Regions from separate parts of the Homo sapiens genome. Here region 2 is linked to region 1. Evidence: fine-mapped expression QTL. Tissue or cell type: testis. Region 1 holds a variant in brackets; the other region holds the start of a gene. All regions are shown on one strand. Distances are from middle to middle.

Region 1 (8,062 bases):
GTGGGGGTGCCTGGGGCCCTAGCCTGGCTCCTCACGCTCCCGTCATCCCCTGCTTCTGCTCATCTGGTCACTGGGCTCCAGCCAGGGGCCTCACAGGCAGATCCGCCCCCCACCTCCCTGTAGGCACGCGGGCACACACGTGCCATCACCCCTTCCACACACTCAGGTGCACAGGCGTAGACAAGCGTATGCCCACCTGTCCCTTGTCTGCTTCCGCAGGGGCGCAGCCCAGTGGTTTGGAGTCAGCGGCGACTGGGAGGGGCAGCGGCAGCAGTGGCAGCGCCGCAGCCTGCACCACTGCAGCATGCGCTACGGCCGCCTGAAGGCCTCGTGCCAGCGTGACCTGGAGCTCCCCAGCCAGGAGGCACCGTCCTTCCAGGGCACTGAGTCCCCAAAGCCCTGCAAGATGCCCAAGGTGGGATCCATGGGGAAAGGAGGCAGGGGTGGGGACCCTAATGGCTCTGCTTACCGCCCCCCTCCCTTCCAGATTGTGGATCCGCTGGCCCGGGGCCGGGCCTTCCGCCACCCGGAGGAGATGGACAGGCCCCACGCCCCGCACCCACCGCTGACCCCCGGAGTCCTGTCCCTCACCTCCTTCACCAGTGTCCGTTCTGGCTACTCCCACCTGCCACGCCGCAAGAGAATGTCTGTGGCCCACATGAGCTTGCAAGCTGCCGCTGCCCTCCTCAAGGTGCGGGGCTCCCTCCTGCAGGGCCCCCACCTCTGCCCGGCCTCCCTTCCTTGCCCCTCCCTTCCACTCCTCATAGTAGCATCCCCTAAAGCTCACCTGGGCATCTGCCTACGGTGCCAAGGACAGTGGATGTGCTGGGATCCCTGGGCAAAGAGGGACCCCGAAGCCCAGCACCCAGGCGTCCATCCTTCTGTCTTAAATCTCGTGTGACCCCCTGCCAAGTTTTGGAACCTGGTCTCTGCACTGACTCTTAAGCTGGGGAAGTGGGAAGTGAGATGCATACTTGCTCCTCATCCACCCGGGTTTTCCAAGTCCCTGTTACGTGCTGGGCACCGCGTGCAGAGCCATCGCCATCCTGGCTGAGCTCGCAGCCCAGGGTGAGGGTCACCATTCAGGGTGGTCAGTTTAGGAGAGCGGCTGTTATCAGGGAAGACATTGAGTTAAGCCCAGAAGACACAAGGAGACGTTCACTAGGGAAGGAAGGGAACAGCATTCTCAGCAGAGGGAATGGCCTATGCAAGGGCCAGGAGCCCAGAGGAAGTACAGTGCTTTGAGGGGGCAGCAGGCGGTTTGATGTGGTTTTAGTGAAGGGTGGTTATAGGAGCTGTGGCAGGAGATGGGGTCAGAAAGGTGGGCAGGGACCTGGTATTCCGTGCCAAGAAACAGGGACAGGGAGACATGGCCCAAGCCTCGGGAGTGAGGGTATAGAATGTGGGTTGCTTTGAGTGTTAGGGTACCAGCAGCCCAAGGCAGAGGGGCAGCAGGGACCAAGGGAAAGGTGACTCCAAACTGTGCCAAGAGTGGTGTGCCAACGGAAGCTGGTGTCTCATTTCCTGGCCTTCCAGTCTCAGGAGCTCCTCTTGCCCGTTCAGCTTGCAGAATCTCCACGCTTTGGGCAGGATCCCTCCTCCCAAGGCGCTGCCTGCAGGCGGATGGGCTTGATGATTCCTTCGGTGTTGGGGCTGGGGGCCTAGGTGGCCAGGCTGTGGTCCTGATGGCTGTGCCTCTGCCCGTGCACAGGGGCGCTCGGTGCTGGATGCCACCGGACAGCGGTGCCGGGTGGTCAAGCGCAGCTTTGCCTTCCCGAGCTTCCTGGAGGAGGATGTGGTCGATGGGGCAGACACGTTTGACTCCTCCTTTTTTAGTAAGGCAAGCATGGGGTGTGGGACAGCAGGAGTTGGGTGGGGTGGCCTGGGAGCTGGGTGAGGTGACCTTGGCATTGATCATATTCAGGAACCCCTGAGGGACCCAGAGGCCCACTGCTGGGATGTGGCATGGTCCTATGTGGAGCTGCTGGGCCCCCATCTTTCTGTTGGGTAGGGTGAAGACCTGCGGTGGGGCACAGTGCCACCCGGGAAAGTCACCATTGGGGCTGACGGGCATGTGGCTTCCCAATTCATTGTGAAGAGCCCGTCTGTTCAGCTGTGTCCTGCCCTTGAATTGAGGTTCCGGGGGGCAGTGTTTGGGACAGACTCCTTACACTGTATTTTCTTGTCCCCCACCCCAGGAAGAAATGAGCTCCATGCCTGATGATGTCTTTGAGTCCCCCCCACTCTCTGCCAGCTACTTCCGAGGGATCCCACACTCAGCCTCCCCTGTCTCCCCCGATGGGGTGCAAATCCCTCTGTGAGTGCTGGGGCAGAGTCCCTCCTCCAGGCCAGCCACCAGCCTGGGGGCATCCCCAGACCTCACCCTGGCCCCCAAGCCCCTTCTGAGCACCCTGGTGGGGTCTGGGAGTATTTTGGTGGGGGATTCAGGCTGAAAGCCACCATCCCCACCAGGAAGGAGTATGGCCGAGCCCCAGTCCCCGGGCCCCGGCGCGGCAAGCGCATCGCCTCCAAGGTGAAGCACTTTGCCTTTGATCGGAAGAAGCGGCACTACGGCCTCGGCGTGGTGGGCAACTGGCTGAACCGCAGCTACCGCCGCAGCATCAGCAGCACTGTGCAGCGGCAGCTGGAGAGCTTCGACAGCCACCGGTGAGGTGTCGCCCTGGAGCCCCCAGGAGAGCCTGGAAGGTTCCAAATTCCTCTGGGCCCTCCTGAAGCGCCCCCTTACTCATTCAGCAAGTGTTTCATGAGCATCTTCTGCGGATCAGGAGTGTAGTGACAAGCTCGAAGGCGCACCCTGTCCCAAGGGTTGTGCACATGACCTGGGAAGGGCCAGGGGTGCTTGCTGCCTCTCTTCCACCCCATGCTTTCTGAGCCTGGTCCCCAGCCTTGCTCCCAGACAGCAGTCAGTCAACAAATGTTCATTGAGTGTCACTGCCTGCAGGCCCTAAAATGGAACCCCCAGAGGGTGGAGCAGGGAGGGCAGGGTCGGTCAGAGGACAGTTAGAAGCTGGGGCCAGGGCTGGGCGCCGTGGCTCACACTTGTAATTATAGCACTTTGGGAGGCTGAGTCAGAAGGATTGCTTGAGCCTAGGAGTTTGAGACCAGCCTGGGCAACATAGTGAGACCCTACCTCTACTTTAAAAGAAGAAGCTGGGGCTGGGAGGGAGGGGACTCTGGGAGAGGCTATGCAGAGCCCTTGGGGAAGAACAGGGCATCTGATTTGCAGCAGCCCAATAAACACTGGGCCCAAATTAGAAAATAACAAGCAGGCAGGGCGCGGTGGCTCACGCCTGTAATTCCAGCACTTTCTGAGGCCGAGGCAGGCGGATCACCTGAGGTCAGGAGTTCAAGACCAGCCTGGCCAACATGGTGAAACCCCATCTCTACTAAAAATACAAAAAATTAGCCGGGCGTGGTGGTGCATGCCTGTAATCCCAGCTACTCGGGAGGCTTGAGGCAGGAGAATCACTTGAACCTGGGAGGCAGAGGTTGCAGTGAGCCAGGATCGCACCATTGTACTCCAGCCTGGGCAACAAGAGCGAAATTCCATCTCAAAAAAAAAAGAAAGAAAAGAAAAAGAAAATAACAAGCAATGGC[C/T]AGGCCCGGTGGCTCACACCTGTAATCCCAGCACTTCGGGAGGCCTAGGTGGGCAGATCACCTGAGGTCAGGAGTTCGAGACCAGCCTGGCCAACACAGTGAAAACTGGTCTCTACTAAAAAGACAAACAAAATTAGGCAGGTATGGTGGGTGCTTGTAATCCCAGCTACGAGGGAGGCTGAGGCAGGAGAATCGCTTGAACCTGGGGGCGAAGGTTGCAGTGAGCTGAGATCGCACAACTGCATTCCAGCCTAGGTGACAGAGCGAGACTCTGTCTCAAAAAAAAAAAAAGAAAAGAAAAGAACAAGCAATGATAGGTGTGGTGGGTGTCCCGGAGGAGGATAGAGAGGGAGAGTGAACAGCTGGTGGGGAGGGGTGCAGTCAGGACAAACTGTGATGTCATGTGCAAAGGCCCTGGGGCTGGAAGGGCAAAGTACATCCCAGGAAATGCAGGCAAAGAGGCCAGAGAGGTGGTCGGTCAGGCAAAGCTTTGCAGCCAGCAAGAGGGGGTGATTCTGGAATTTGTCCCAAGGCCAGTGGAAAGCTATCAAAAGGTTTTAAGCTAGGAGAGAGATGCTTGGAGGCTCGTCTTAAAAGTTCCTCTGGTTTGAGATGAGTTGACGGGGCAGAACAGGGAGCCCAGGCGAGCCATGTGACCAGGCCAGGGTGGCCCTGTGGCCGGGACTGGGGGTTGGGATAGGAGCTCGGCTCAGCTGACCCGAGGTGTCTCTGCACAGGCCCTACTTCACCTACTGGCTGACCTTCGTCCATGTCATCATCACGCTGCTGGTGATTTGCACGTATGGCATCGCACCCGTGGGCTTTGCCCAGCACGTCACCACCCAGCTGGTGAGTCGGGTCAGGCTCCATGCTGGGGGTCCCAGCCTCTCCTAGGAGGCCTCAGTGTCGTGGGTACCTAATCCCTCCCACCGCAACAATCTGGCCCCAGCAGGGTGGTGCTCACCATAGCCTGGCCCCTTCCTGGAGGCTCTATCCTGGGGACAGCTGCCCCAGCTCCCCATGCCCAGGGCCCACACTGTTCTGACGCCCTCCTCTGTGCTACCTCCACGATAGGTGCTGCGGAACAAAGGTGTGTACGAGAGCGTGAAGTACATCCAGCAGGAGAACTTCTGGGTTGGCCCCAGCTCGGTGAGGGCCCAGGCTGGGGGACATCATCTGAGCCAGGAGTCCCTGTGCCCTGTCACTCCCAGCTGGGCAGGTGGGCTCCTCACCCACCCGCAGGCCCCTCATCAGGGGAGACTCTGCGGGGCAGAGGTGGAGTGATGGACCCCTCCCAGGTCTGGGGCTCAAACTCACTCTCTCCCCTCCCTTTCCCTTCCCCAGATTGACCTGATCCACCTGGGGGCCAAGTTCTCACCCTGCATCCGGAAGGACGGGCAGATCGAGCAGCTGGTGCTGCGCGAGCGAGACCTGGAGCGGGACTCAGGCTGCTGTGTCCAGAATGACCACTCCGGATGCATCCAGACCCAGCGGAAGGACTGCTCGGTGGGGGCAGGCCCTCCCTCCTACCCCTGCCAGACCCTGGTCCCGGACTAGCTCCACTTGCCCTGTCCTTCAAGGGCAGTGACCACGTTCCCTCCTCCCCGCCCCACCTTTCCCAGACCCCCATAGATGAGACTGAGCCCTGGGGAGATGGGAAAAGCCTCTGTCCTTGCCCACTCCAGTGGGGGTGACCTGGCCCCGACATGACCCACCAGCCTTCTTCTGCCCTCCAGGAGACTTTGGCCACTTTTGTCAAGTGGCAGGATGACACTGGGCCCCCCATGGACAAGTCTGATCTGGGCCAGAAGCGGACTTCGGGGGCTGTCTGCCACCAGGACCCCAGGTAGGGCCTGGAGCCTCTGCTGGGCCTCAGGGTCAGGCATAGCCATGCCATCTGAGCCACCCACAGGGACGTGGGTAGGTGGACGTGGCACGCTGGGTGTGCCACAGCCCAATCTGAACCCTGTCTCCAGGACCTGCGAGGAGCCAGCCTCCAGCGGTGCCCACATCTGGCCCGATGACATCACTAAGTGGCCGGTGAGTGTCCCTGGCGGGGAGTGGTCTGGGAAGGTCAGGGATGGGGGACCTGCCTGCTGCACAGCCCACTTCCCTGCCGGTGCCCCCTCCTGGCAGATCTGCACAGAGCAGGCCAGGAGCAACCACACAGGCTTCCTGCACATGGACTGCGAGATCAAGGGCCGCCCCTGCTGCATCGGCACCAAGGGCAGGTGAGCGACCTGGGCCCTGGCCTCAGCCATCCCACTGCCCCCCCGAGCTGCGGCTTCCTGTGGGCCCTCTGCTCCTCCACCGTCACCACCCACAGCCGCTGGGCCGATGCCCTCCAATAACTGTCCTTTGCTCCCCTGCTCTGGGGCTACCCATGGTGCGAGCTGGAGGAAGGAAGCTTGCTCCAGAGTCGAAGGTTCTGGATGCGGCATCCCCCTTCCTGCCAGCGATGCCTCCTGTAGCCAGGTGCTGGGCTCTGGGCAAAGGTGGGCAGTGGTTATTCGGCGCCCTGATGTCCCCTCTTGCCTCACCACCCCCTTAGCTGTGAGATCACCACCCGGGAATACTGTGAGTTCATGCACGGCTATTTCCATGAGGAAGCAACACTCTGCTCCCAGGTGAGGCGAGGCAGGCCTGGAGTAGTGGAGGAGAGGACGCTGGGCATGGCAGCCTGCTGGGGCCGGGGCTCACGCACTCCCTCCCATGTCGGAGCCTCAGACTCAGCCTGCTTCTGGGGCGCTGAGCACCATATGCCCACTCCCAGGTGCACTGCTTGGACAAGGTGTGTGGGCTGCTGCCCTTCCTCAACCCTGAGGTCCCAGATCAGTTCTACAGGCTCTGGCTGTCTCTCTTCCTACATGCTGGGTAAGAGGCTCCTCACTGCCCCCGAACCCGACCCCTGTGATGGCCACCCAGCCGGACCCCTGGGGAAAGGTTCCTGGGCCAGGGCATGGCCGGCCCAACCTGCCGAAGCCTACTGCTCCTGAAGTGCCTGGCTGAAGGCCGCTGCCTGGTGTGTCCCTCCCCCAGCGTGGTGCACTGCCTCGTGTCTGTGGTCTTTCAAATGACCATCCTGAGGGACCTGGAGAAGCTGGCCGGCTGGCACCGTATCGCCATCATCTTCATCCTCAGTGGCATCACAGGCAACCTCGCCAGTGCCATCTTTCTCCCATACCGGGCAGAGGTAAGGATGTGGAGGATGGGACCCCTTCCGCACATAGGGGGCCAGCCCTGCTGCTCCTATTCCACCCACCTGGGATCTGCCAGAGGGACACGGTGCCCCTCCTGTACTGGGCTCCACAGCGGAGGGACAGCTAATCTGGGGGCTTACTGGCTGGTCTCTTAATCCCAGTGAGAGGGAACAGTGATGCTCTTGAGTCACCCTGTCCCTCCACCGCCTCATTTATCTTCCTAACCGTGCCCACTGCCTGACAGTATGCTAGGTATCTGCAGGTCGAGCGGTAGGAAATGGCCTCCGTGCGCCGTCGGCAGTCTGATCAGTTCCACCTGACTGATCTAGTTTGTTCAGTGTCCGTCCTCTCCCCACCGTGTGCGGCCTGGAACAGGCTTGTCTGTCTTGCTTATTGCTACGGACCCACACCAGGCACGTACACAGTAGGCGCTCAGTGTTTGCTGAAAGAATGGGCGGAGCAGGCCCAGCTTTGGTCCAGCAGCTCCAGCCGACCCCCTGCCCCTCAGCCTCAGGGGTCCCCATGCCTGCCAGGGAGGAGCTGATCGATGGGATGACCCAGGGTGCAGGCCCGGCCCAGGCCACCCACCTGATGCCTGAAGCCACGTCTCCCCTGCCCCGCCCCAGGTGGGCCCGGCCGGCTCACAGTTCGGCCTCCTCGCCTGCCTCTTCGTGGAGCTCTTCCAGAGCTGGCCGCTGCTGGAGAGGCCCTGGAAGGCCTTCCTCAACCTCTCGGCCATCGTGCTCTTCCTGTTCATCTGTGGCCTCCTGCCCTGGATCGACAACATCGCCCACATCTTCGGCTTCCTCAGTGGCCTGCTGCTGGCCTTCGCCTTCCTGCCCTACATCACCTTCGGCACCAGCGACAAGTACCGCAAGCGGGCACTCATCCTGGTGTCACTGCTGGCCTTTGCCGGCCTCTTCGCCGCCCTCGTGCTGTGGCTGTACATCTACCCCATTAACTGGCCCTGGATCGAGCACCTCACCTGCTTCCCCTTCACCAGCCGCTTCTGCGAGAAGTATGAGCTGGACCAGGTGCTGCACTGACCGCTGGGCCACACGGCTGCCCCTCAGCCCTGCTGGAACAGGGTCTGCCTGCGAGGGCTGCCCTCTGCAGAGCGCTCTCTGTGTGCCAGAGAGCCAGAGACCCAAGACAGGGCCCGGGCTCTGGACCTGGGTGCCCCCCTGCCAGGCGAGGCTGACTCCGCGTGAGATGGTTGGTTAAGGCGGGGTTTTTCTGGGGCG
Region 2 (8,071 bases), 27 kb before region 1:
GCCCTGCTCTCTCTCACCACCTGTGCGTTCTTGGGCACAGTCCTACACTTCTCTGAACCTTGACAAGGAAGTCAGCATCCAGCATCCTCTCATTCAAAAGATTCACTGTTCCTTTTTTTTTTTTTTTTTTTTTTTTTGAGATGGAGTCTCACTCTGTCGCCCAGGGTGGAGTGCAGAGGCGCGATCTCAGCTCACTGCAGCCTCCACCTCCCAGGTTCAAGCGATTCTCCTGCCTCAGCCTCCCAAGTAGCTGGGATTACAGGCATGTGCGATCATGCCTGGCTAATTTTTGTATTTTTAGTAGAGATGGGGGTTCCATCATGTTGTCCAGGTGGGTCTCGAATTCCTGACCTCAAGTGATCCACCACCGGCTTGGCCTCCGAAAGTGCTGGGATTACAGGTGTGAGCCACCACACCCGGCCGCTCACGTTCTAAAAATGAAAAAAGCTAAACATAGACCCCTAATATTTTACTCCCGTGGACAAATACCAGGGCGTCCTTCAAAGGTGTGTTGTCGGAGCTTTTCTGAGTTTGCTAACTAATGGCTTCAAGACCCTCTGCCCTTTTCTTCCGAGGATCACAAAGTGAGTCTTGAGGGGGTCTCAGGGTGTGCAGTTCCCAGGGTGGGTCCCTCTCTGGGGCATGTTCTCCTGCCTTCCTCTAAGGCAGTACTCACTGAGGACCAACGCTTCTCAATGTCAAACTCTGTCGCTGGTCTTAATTCCACAGCAGCCTCAGTGTCCTCATCTGTAAAGCCTGACCTGCCTATCTGCAGAATTGTTGTCAAGATTTAAAAAATAAAATAGGCTGGGCGCAGTGGCTCATGCCTGTAAACCCAGCACTGTGGGAGGCCGAGGCGGGAAGATCGCTTGAGTCCAGGAGTTCAAGACCAGCCTGGGCAACATAGTGAGACCTCCATCTCTACAAACAATAAAGCAAAATTAGCTGAGTGTGGTGGCCTGTAGTCCCAGCTACTCAGGAGGTTGAGGTGGGAGGATCACTTGAGCCCAGGAGGTTGAGGCTACAGTGATTCCCATTGTACCACTGCACTCCAGCCTGGATGACAGAGCAAGATAACGGCCTCAAAAAATAATAATAGGCCGGGCACAGTGGCTCACACCTGTAATCCCAGTGCTTTGGGAGGCTGAAGTGGGCAGATCACGAGGTCAGGAGATCGAGACCATCCTGGCCAATATGGTGAAACCCCATCTCTACTAAAAATACAAAAAAAAAGGCCAGGCACAGTGGCTCATACTTGTAATCCCAGCACTTTGGGAGACAGAGGCAGGAGGATCACCTGAGGTTGGGAGTTCGAGACCAGCCTGACCAACATGGAGAAACCCCATCTCTACTAAAAATATACAAAATTAGCCAGGTGTGGTGGTGCATGCCTGTAATCCCAGCTACTTGGGAGGCTGAGGCAGGAGAATCGCTTGAACCCGAGAGGTGGAGGTTGTGGTGAGCCGAGATTGCGCCATTGCACTCCAGCCTGGGCAACAAGAGAGAAACTCTGTCTCAAAAAAAAAAAATTAGTTGGATGTGGTGGCGCATGCCTGTAATCCCAGCTGCTCGGGAAACTGAGACACGAGAATCACTTGAACCCAGAAGGCCGAGGTTGCAGTGAGTGGAGATTGCGCCACTGCACTCCAGCCTGGCGACAGAGCGAGACTGCGGTTCAAAAATAAATAAATAATAATAATAAATGAAATAGTGTCTGTGAAAGCATGTTTTAAAGGAGGGGACACAAGCAGAAAATATGAGGGTGCAATTTCCTAGTTGAAGAATGCCTCATGGGCTCCCCCTTGCTTACAGAAGAAAGTAAAAACCCTTATCCAGACACACAGCAGCCTCCACCCTGAGCCCCCGCTGCCTCCCCAGGCTTCTCCTGTCCTCCTCCTCACACAGCCTGCGATGTAGCCAAGCCATAGCACCAGAAGCTTCCCCACCACAGCCAGTTTCCCGGCTGTGTCTTCGTTCTTGTTCTTCCCACTAGAAATCCCTTTCCTTATCCCAATCTGTGAAGATCTTCCCTACACCTGTAGGTCCATAAAAATAAAAAAGCTTAGACGGTGTTTTTCACTTATTCTTTCTTTTTCTTTTCCTTTTTTTTTTTTTTTTTTTTTTGAGACAGAGTTTCCCTCTTATTGCTTAGGCTGGAGTGCAATGGTGCAATCTCAGCTCACTGCAACCTCTGCCTCCCGGGTTCAAGCGATTCTCCTGCCTCAGCCTCCCGAGTAGCTGGGATTACAGGCATGTGCCACCACGCCTGGCTAATTTTGTATTTTTAGTAGAGATGGGGTTTCTCCATGTTGGCCAGGCTGGTCTCGAACTCCCGACCTCAGGTGATCTGCCCGCCTCGGCCTCCCAAAATGCTGGTATTACAGGAGTGAGCCACTGCGCCCGGCCAACAGTGTTTTTCTTTAAGTTATAAAAGTAAAATATGTAAAGTGTAATCCCACCGATTTTGGAGGCCAAAGCAGGATCACTTGAATCCAGGAGTTTGAGGCCAGCCTGAGCGACGTAGTGAGGCCCCCCCCCACCGCCCACCACCATCTCTACAAAAAAAAAATTTAGTTAGCCAGAAAGGATGGCGTGCACCTATAGTCCCAGCTACTCAGGAGGCTGAAGTGGGAGGATCACTTGAGCCCCAGAGGTCGAGGCTGCAATAAGCCATGAGTATACTGTACTCCAGCCTGGGTGACACCAAAACCTTGTCTCAAAACAAAAACAAAGAGTTTAGACAGTGTTTCTCTTTAAGTTATGTAAGTAATATATGCACATGATACAAAATGAAAAGCAAGTGACTCTCTCCCCCTAAACCCCTGCAGGGTTACTCCACAGATATCCTTCCAGAAAGTTTGTATGGATCTACCAACATATATATGTCTGTTCTATTTAAATTTAGGTAAATAGGATTATACTAAACATGCAGCTTGCTTTTTTTTTTTTAACTTACTATAAGTTGGAGATAATTCCTTTCTCAGTACATGGATAGCTGCCTCGTTGCTTTTAACAGCTGTGTGACATTATCACAAGTTATACCCCTGGCCTATTTAACATTCTTCCCTCTCTGGCCTCACAGGTGCGTGTTGCTGCAGCCAAGGCTGTAATCAGCCTCCCTGCACCTATGTGGCCGGGCAGCACGCCATGTTTGCATGGGACAAATCCCTGACACCAGCTTAAGCACCACCATGAATCCCTCCCCTCCTGGGGACTCCTGCAGAGCTTCCAGTAGAGCTCCAGGAGAGAGAACCCAGCTCAGGCATTTGCAGCAGTGTTTGTTAGAGTCTAAAGTCAGATCATGACCGAGTTTAAACCCCAGCTGCTCCCCTCACATCTCCCTCTGCCTCAGTTTTCTCATCCCTAAAATGGGGATGATCATAATGGTACCCACTTCATAGACCTGTACTGCGGATTATACAGACTAAAGCACTTTGGAATGGCTAGCTGCTCTCACCCTTCCTGTTACAGTATTGAGTTCCAACGTCTCCCTGTAGAATGCTGGCACTTCGTGGGCAGGCCCTGGTTTTGTTCCTCTCTGCACATAACCCCAGGATGTGCTGGTTGCACAATAAATGGTCCCTTACATTTGTTACTAGGAGCAACCCCCACCCCAGCTTTGGCCCACTCCCCCTCCTTCCAGCCTGTGCCCTCCTCATGGCCCCAGAGCTGGGGAGGAGAGATGCATCTCTCAGGATAATCTCCAGCAGCCAGGTGCTCCCCACCTCCACCCAGGTCAGCAATAAACACCAGAGTCCTTGGGTTGGGGGGCAGGGTGGCTCAGGAGCTCTCTAAGGGCCAGAGGTTTTGCCTTGGCCCTGACAACCCCACCCCCACCCCTCCAAGCCTGAGTCTCTTCAAACTCTGCTCCTCCTGGCCTAGCCAGGCCTCCTGGAGAGGGACGGCGAGATGATAAGCGCTGGGGCTGAGAACGGGGCATCCAGACCTTGGAGTTCGGTCCTAGCTGCCCTGGCCAAGGTTTTGTTTGTCTAGTCCCAAGAGGCAGGCCCTTGGAGTCCAGGGAAGAGAGAAGGAACCACCTGGGCAGACAGACCCAAGCCAAGGGGCCAGGTGTCGCCAGCGTCCCCAATCTCCAGTCTGGCTCTGGCCCGCATGGCAGCTGGAAGGGCCAGAGCTGGGTGGGTTCTGTCAATGCTTCTACGGGGTGTGTAGGGGGTTGGCAGGAGTCACAAATGTTGGCCTTAGCTGCAGGGCAAATGCAGATAGGACCTCCACGGAGTGCCTGTTCCCAACCCAAGGGCACAGCAGAGCTAGGAGAGAGGCCTCAGGGTCCAGGAGGGAGAGGAGGTGTTCAGGCCCAGCTTCCCGGAGAGAGTGTGACTACAGACTAAAAGGGTCAAGGGAACAGGCCCACTTGGCCTGAGGATGAGGGCGCTGGAAGAAGGGGATGGGAGATTGGGTGCTTTTTCTTGATGGGGAGGGGCGACTTGAAGACGGCAATCAAGACCTAGATGACGTGTTTGGTCTGGGGTGGAGTGAGGACGCCAAGAGGGAAAGGACGGCGCCCTGAAGAGACCAGCTCAGGCGAAAACAGGGCTCTGCCCAGGCGGGGACCCAGCTGGGTGGAGGGCGGAGGCAGGAACCCAGGAAGCCGACTGAGCAAAGACTGCGTCCAGGCCCCGCCCCCATGAGCCCGGCCACGCCCCCTGGAGCCCAGCCCCGCCTCCCGGCCGCCCGCGCGCAGGTAGGGAAGAGGCGGAGCGCCGCCGCCCCGCCCCCGAGGAGCCACCGCCCAGCCGCTCGCAGGCGCCGCACGGAGTTGCGTCCCGGGGACTTGGGGCCGCAGGGAGGTGAGCGCGGGGCGACGAGCGGGGCAGGACTCACGGCCGCCCAGCCGCAGGCGCCGGAAGGGTCCCGAGGTTGTGCCCGAGCCTGCCCTGGAGCGGTGGTGCGCGGCCAGGAAGGGTGCCCAGTGCCCGGTGCCCGCCCTGCGGAGCGCCTGGGTCCCACGTGGGCTCGGCTGGAGGCCCGGGCTGGCTCAGACGGCGCCGGCGGGGCCGCTGGACCCGGTCTGCTGGCCCCTAGGGCTCGGCTCGGACAGGACGCCTAAGGGGTCCCTGGGCGACGGGGCGCCAGATGTAGGGGCAAGACGATTGGGCAGAGATTTAAACCTCCGGAGGAAGAGAGGAGACTGCGCAGGGCAGTCCCGCCTGCGTCCCAGAAGTGCCTGCAGTTCAGACCCTTCTCTCCCCTCCACTTTCTCCCGGGTGAGCACCGGGCGGACCGGGGCCGAAGTTTGTTGGTTGAGCCAGCCAAGGTGGAAACAGGTGCGGGGGTGGGGATGAGGGACTCACACAGCAGGGCTGGACCGGAGCTCAGAAATTGGACCCAGGAGTCCTGACTTCTGGATGGAGGGGCTGGGGAAGGTTGGCCCTGGGCTTGCCTTTTACCTGTTTGGCCCCTCGGATGTTCCCCCAGGGCATTGGGATAGAGACGGATAAGTTCCCTAGGGTACAGACCCCGCCCCACTCCCACGCCAGGGCGCAAAGGAAGCCTAGGTTTTGGCCCTGCCCCATTCCATGAAAGATTAACGGAGGGGGCTCTAGGGTTGGAGCTACTGAGAGGGTGGCAGCGGGTGTGTCTGAGGAGCAGAAGGCGGTGGGGAGCTGACCCCACTTGGGGAGAGGCTGCTGTTGCCTGGGCGGCTGGCATCAGGCCCCCAGTGTGTGCCATTTGCTGGTAATATAATGAGACCAGCATCTGCCTTATTCGACCCTCACTGTCCGTAGGGCAGGCAGTGGAAAGGGAGGCGTGTTTTAGAGCTGTGGTTCTCAACCAGGGGCGACTTTGCCTGCCATGGGATATTTGGCAATGTTGGAGTCATTTTGGGTGTCACACACTTGGGAGGGGAAGTGAGTGTTGTTGTTACTGGCAGGTAGTGGGTAGAGGCCAGGGACGCTACCAGACATCTTCAGGGCACGGAACAGCCCACATAACGAGGAATTATCCAGCCCAAGGTGTTGGGCTGTGCTGAGGCTGAGAAACCCTGCGCAGCAGCTGGTCCATCAGGTTCCTTCTCAATGATGCTCCCTCACTGGGGAAACTACCTCAGTTTTCCAGAGTGGTTAGGGGAGGAACTTGGAATAAACCTGAATGAGATGAGGGGTAAGGCAGTGTGAGGGCACTTATTCCCCTCACAAGAGTCTTCCTTTGGTGCCATGAGACACCGCCTTTCCCAATCTCCACTGGCCCTGCAGGAAGCTGGTCTAGGTGCTGTGGGGGAGAGGTTGGGAACAGAGGACCCCCTTGCAGCCCAGGCCTGGGGTGCTTAACCCCAGGGCAATCTCCCAGGAAGGCTGGGCTGAGGCAGCCCTTGAGCTCAAATATCCCTGGGCTGGGAGGGTGGGCAGAGGGCGAGCTCTCTTCCCATAGATTTTCCCAAAGCTGGATTGCTGAAGCTGGCATGGTTGCCTGATACCATGTGACCTGCTGGAATTTTCCCTTCTGAACTCACACCTAACTCCTCCAATTATGTACACCTTTTGAAAGTGACATCCAAGGAGTATCAGGGCTCCTAATTCCTGGGGGGTCCCCAGGCTGCTTTTGTCCTGCAATAAAGAGGGCACCCTGGGTTAGCTGACGAGCCCTGGAGTGGGCCCAGCTGCTGATGGGGTGGAGGCACCCCTGCCCATGGTGTTAGCTGAGCAGAGGTGAGAGATGGGAGACATCAAAGCACAGGCCAGGTGGCCCCCCAGTAGGGATGACTCAGAGTTGTTTGTATTGGGCTGGAGGAATGTACTTCCAGTTTTCTGGCAACAAGGAGGGGTGGCTGGCACGGTGGGAGAGGATCGGATGAAGCAGCCACGTCCATGCCCAGGAGCTGGGGCCACCTCGCTGCCCTCCCTCCCTGTTTTCTTGCAGTAGCCATTATACCCATCCTGTTCACTTCTGGACCCAGCCTTCTTGCCTGGGAACCCTGGTGGAGGTTTCGAGCTTGGGTTCTTTTTGTTGGTGTTGGTGGCTTTTGTTTTTTTTGTTTTGTTTTGTTTTTGTTTTTGTTTTTTTGGTCTCTTGACTGTAAAAGGCTGAAGTGAAACTCCCACCTTTTCATTTGCACAAAAAACAAAAGTGGCCTCCATTGCTGTGAGCCTCTCAAGGGACAGGGCTGAGCACCCAGGCTTGTACAAAGTTGTTCAGGAAGTCGGCAGTGGAGCTCGGGTGTGAACCCAGTTGCCCACCCTCAGGCCCCACCCAAGAGCCCCACGAACAAACCCTCAGTGACTCCTACCTGTCTGTACCTGGTGTAACCACACACACACACAGACACACACAAACAGACACACAGAGACACACACAAACACACAGACACACACAGACTCACACACACACACACACACACACACACACACACACTCTCTTTCTCTCCAGCCCAGGAGGGGGACTTTTGTTCCTATAAGAGGAGGAATAAATCACACTACAAATGCTTTGGGTGACGCACTTGGGGCCCGAGTCCTGCTCTGGGGTCAGTGGTGCTGTTTTTCCTGTGGCCTCAGCTCTGGATACTGTGGTGGCCTCTCCACCAAGGTTTCTGTCCTTGCTGTGTAAACTCTGCCCCAGACAAGGTGACAGATGACAGCAGAAGTCAAGGAGCTGTGCACGCCTGCCCGTGAGTGTGCGAGTGGCATGGCTCAGCTGGCTGGTGCTTCCCTTTGGGCCTGGCCCCCGCCTGCCGCTGGCACAGCACAGGGAAGACGTGTGCCCTCCTGGCTGCCTCTCCCCCTCCACACTCTCCTCAGATCTCTGTGCCTCGCACTCTGGAGCAGGCCTCGGCGCTGCCCCATCTGCCCCAGGGGATTTCCAGAGTGAGCTCAGGCATCTGCACCGGCTGTGGAAGCGCTGGCTGTCGGAAGCGGCTCCCAGTTTCCTATCCAGCTGAGCCAGGCTGGGGGAGGAGTGGCGGGGACGTCTGCGCCTGCCCAAGTACAGGCTGACCTCGGCGGTGGTGGTGGCTAGGCAGGGACAGCTCTCAGGGCACGGGCGGCTTCACAGGGAAACCAAGCCTGCCCGGAACGTCGTTTTGCCTCCCAGGAGACCTAGGATGGGTGTAAGG

The links. PIP is the estimated chance that this variant, and not a neighbour inherited with it, causes the effect.
Region 2: it holds the start of RHBDF2, and the variant in region 1 is fine-mapped to the expression of RHBDF2 in testis (GTEx, PIP 0.97).

What each region holds. Positions count from the first base shown.
Region 1 is chr17:76,471,435-76,479,496 of GRCh38, reverse strand. RHBDF2 (rhomboid 5 homolog 2) reads left to right here. Exons shown (of 19, transcript NM_001005498.4): 5 at 220-415; 6 at 488-691; 7 at 1,712-1,840; 8 at 2,199-2,317; 9 at 2,473-2,667; 10 at 4,356-4,467; 11 at 4,693-4,767; 12 at 4,963-5,124; 13 at 5,355-5,464; 14 at 5,595-5,658; 15 at 5,755-5,849; 16 at 6,170-6,245; 17 at 6,392-6,492; 18 at 6,658-6,811; 1 more. The coding sequence ends at 7,864. Among named protein-coding and RNA genes, the nearest start is that of AANAT, 7.9 kb to the right of the region's middle. RefSeq lists an enhancer at 5,689-6,199. The variant C/T (reference allele first, on the strand shown) is at 3,619.
Region 2 is chr17:76,498,093-76,506,163 of GRCh38, reverse strand. RHBDF2 (rhomboid 5 homolog 2) reads left to right here and starts at 4,741. Exons shown (of 19, transcript NM_001005498.4): 1 at 4,741-4,811. RefSeq lists enhancers at 4,324-4,463, 4,814-5,483 and a silencer at 4,514-5,153.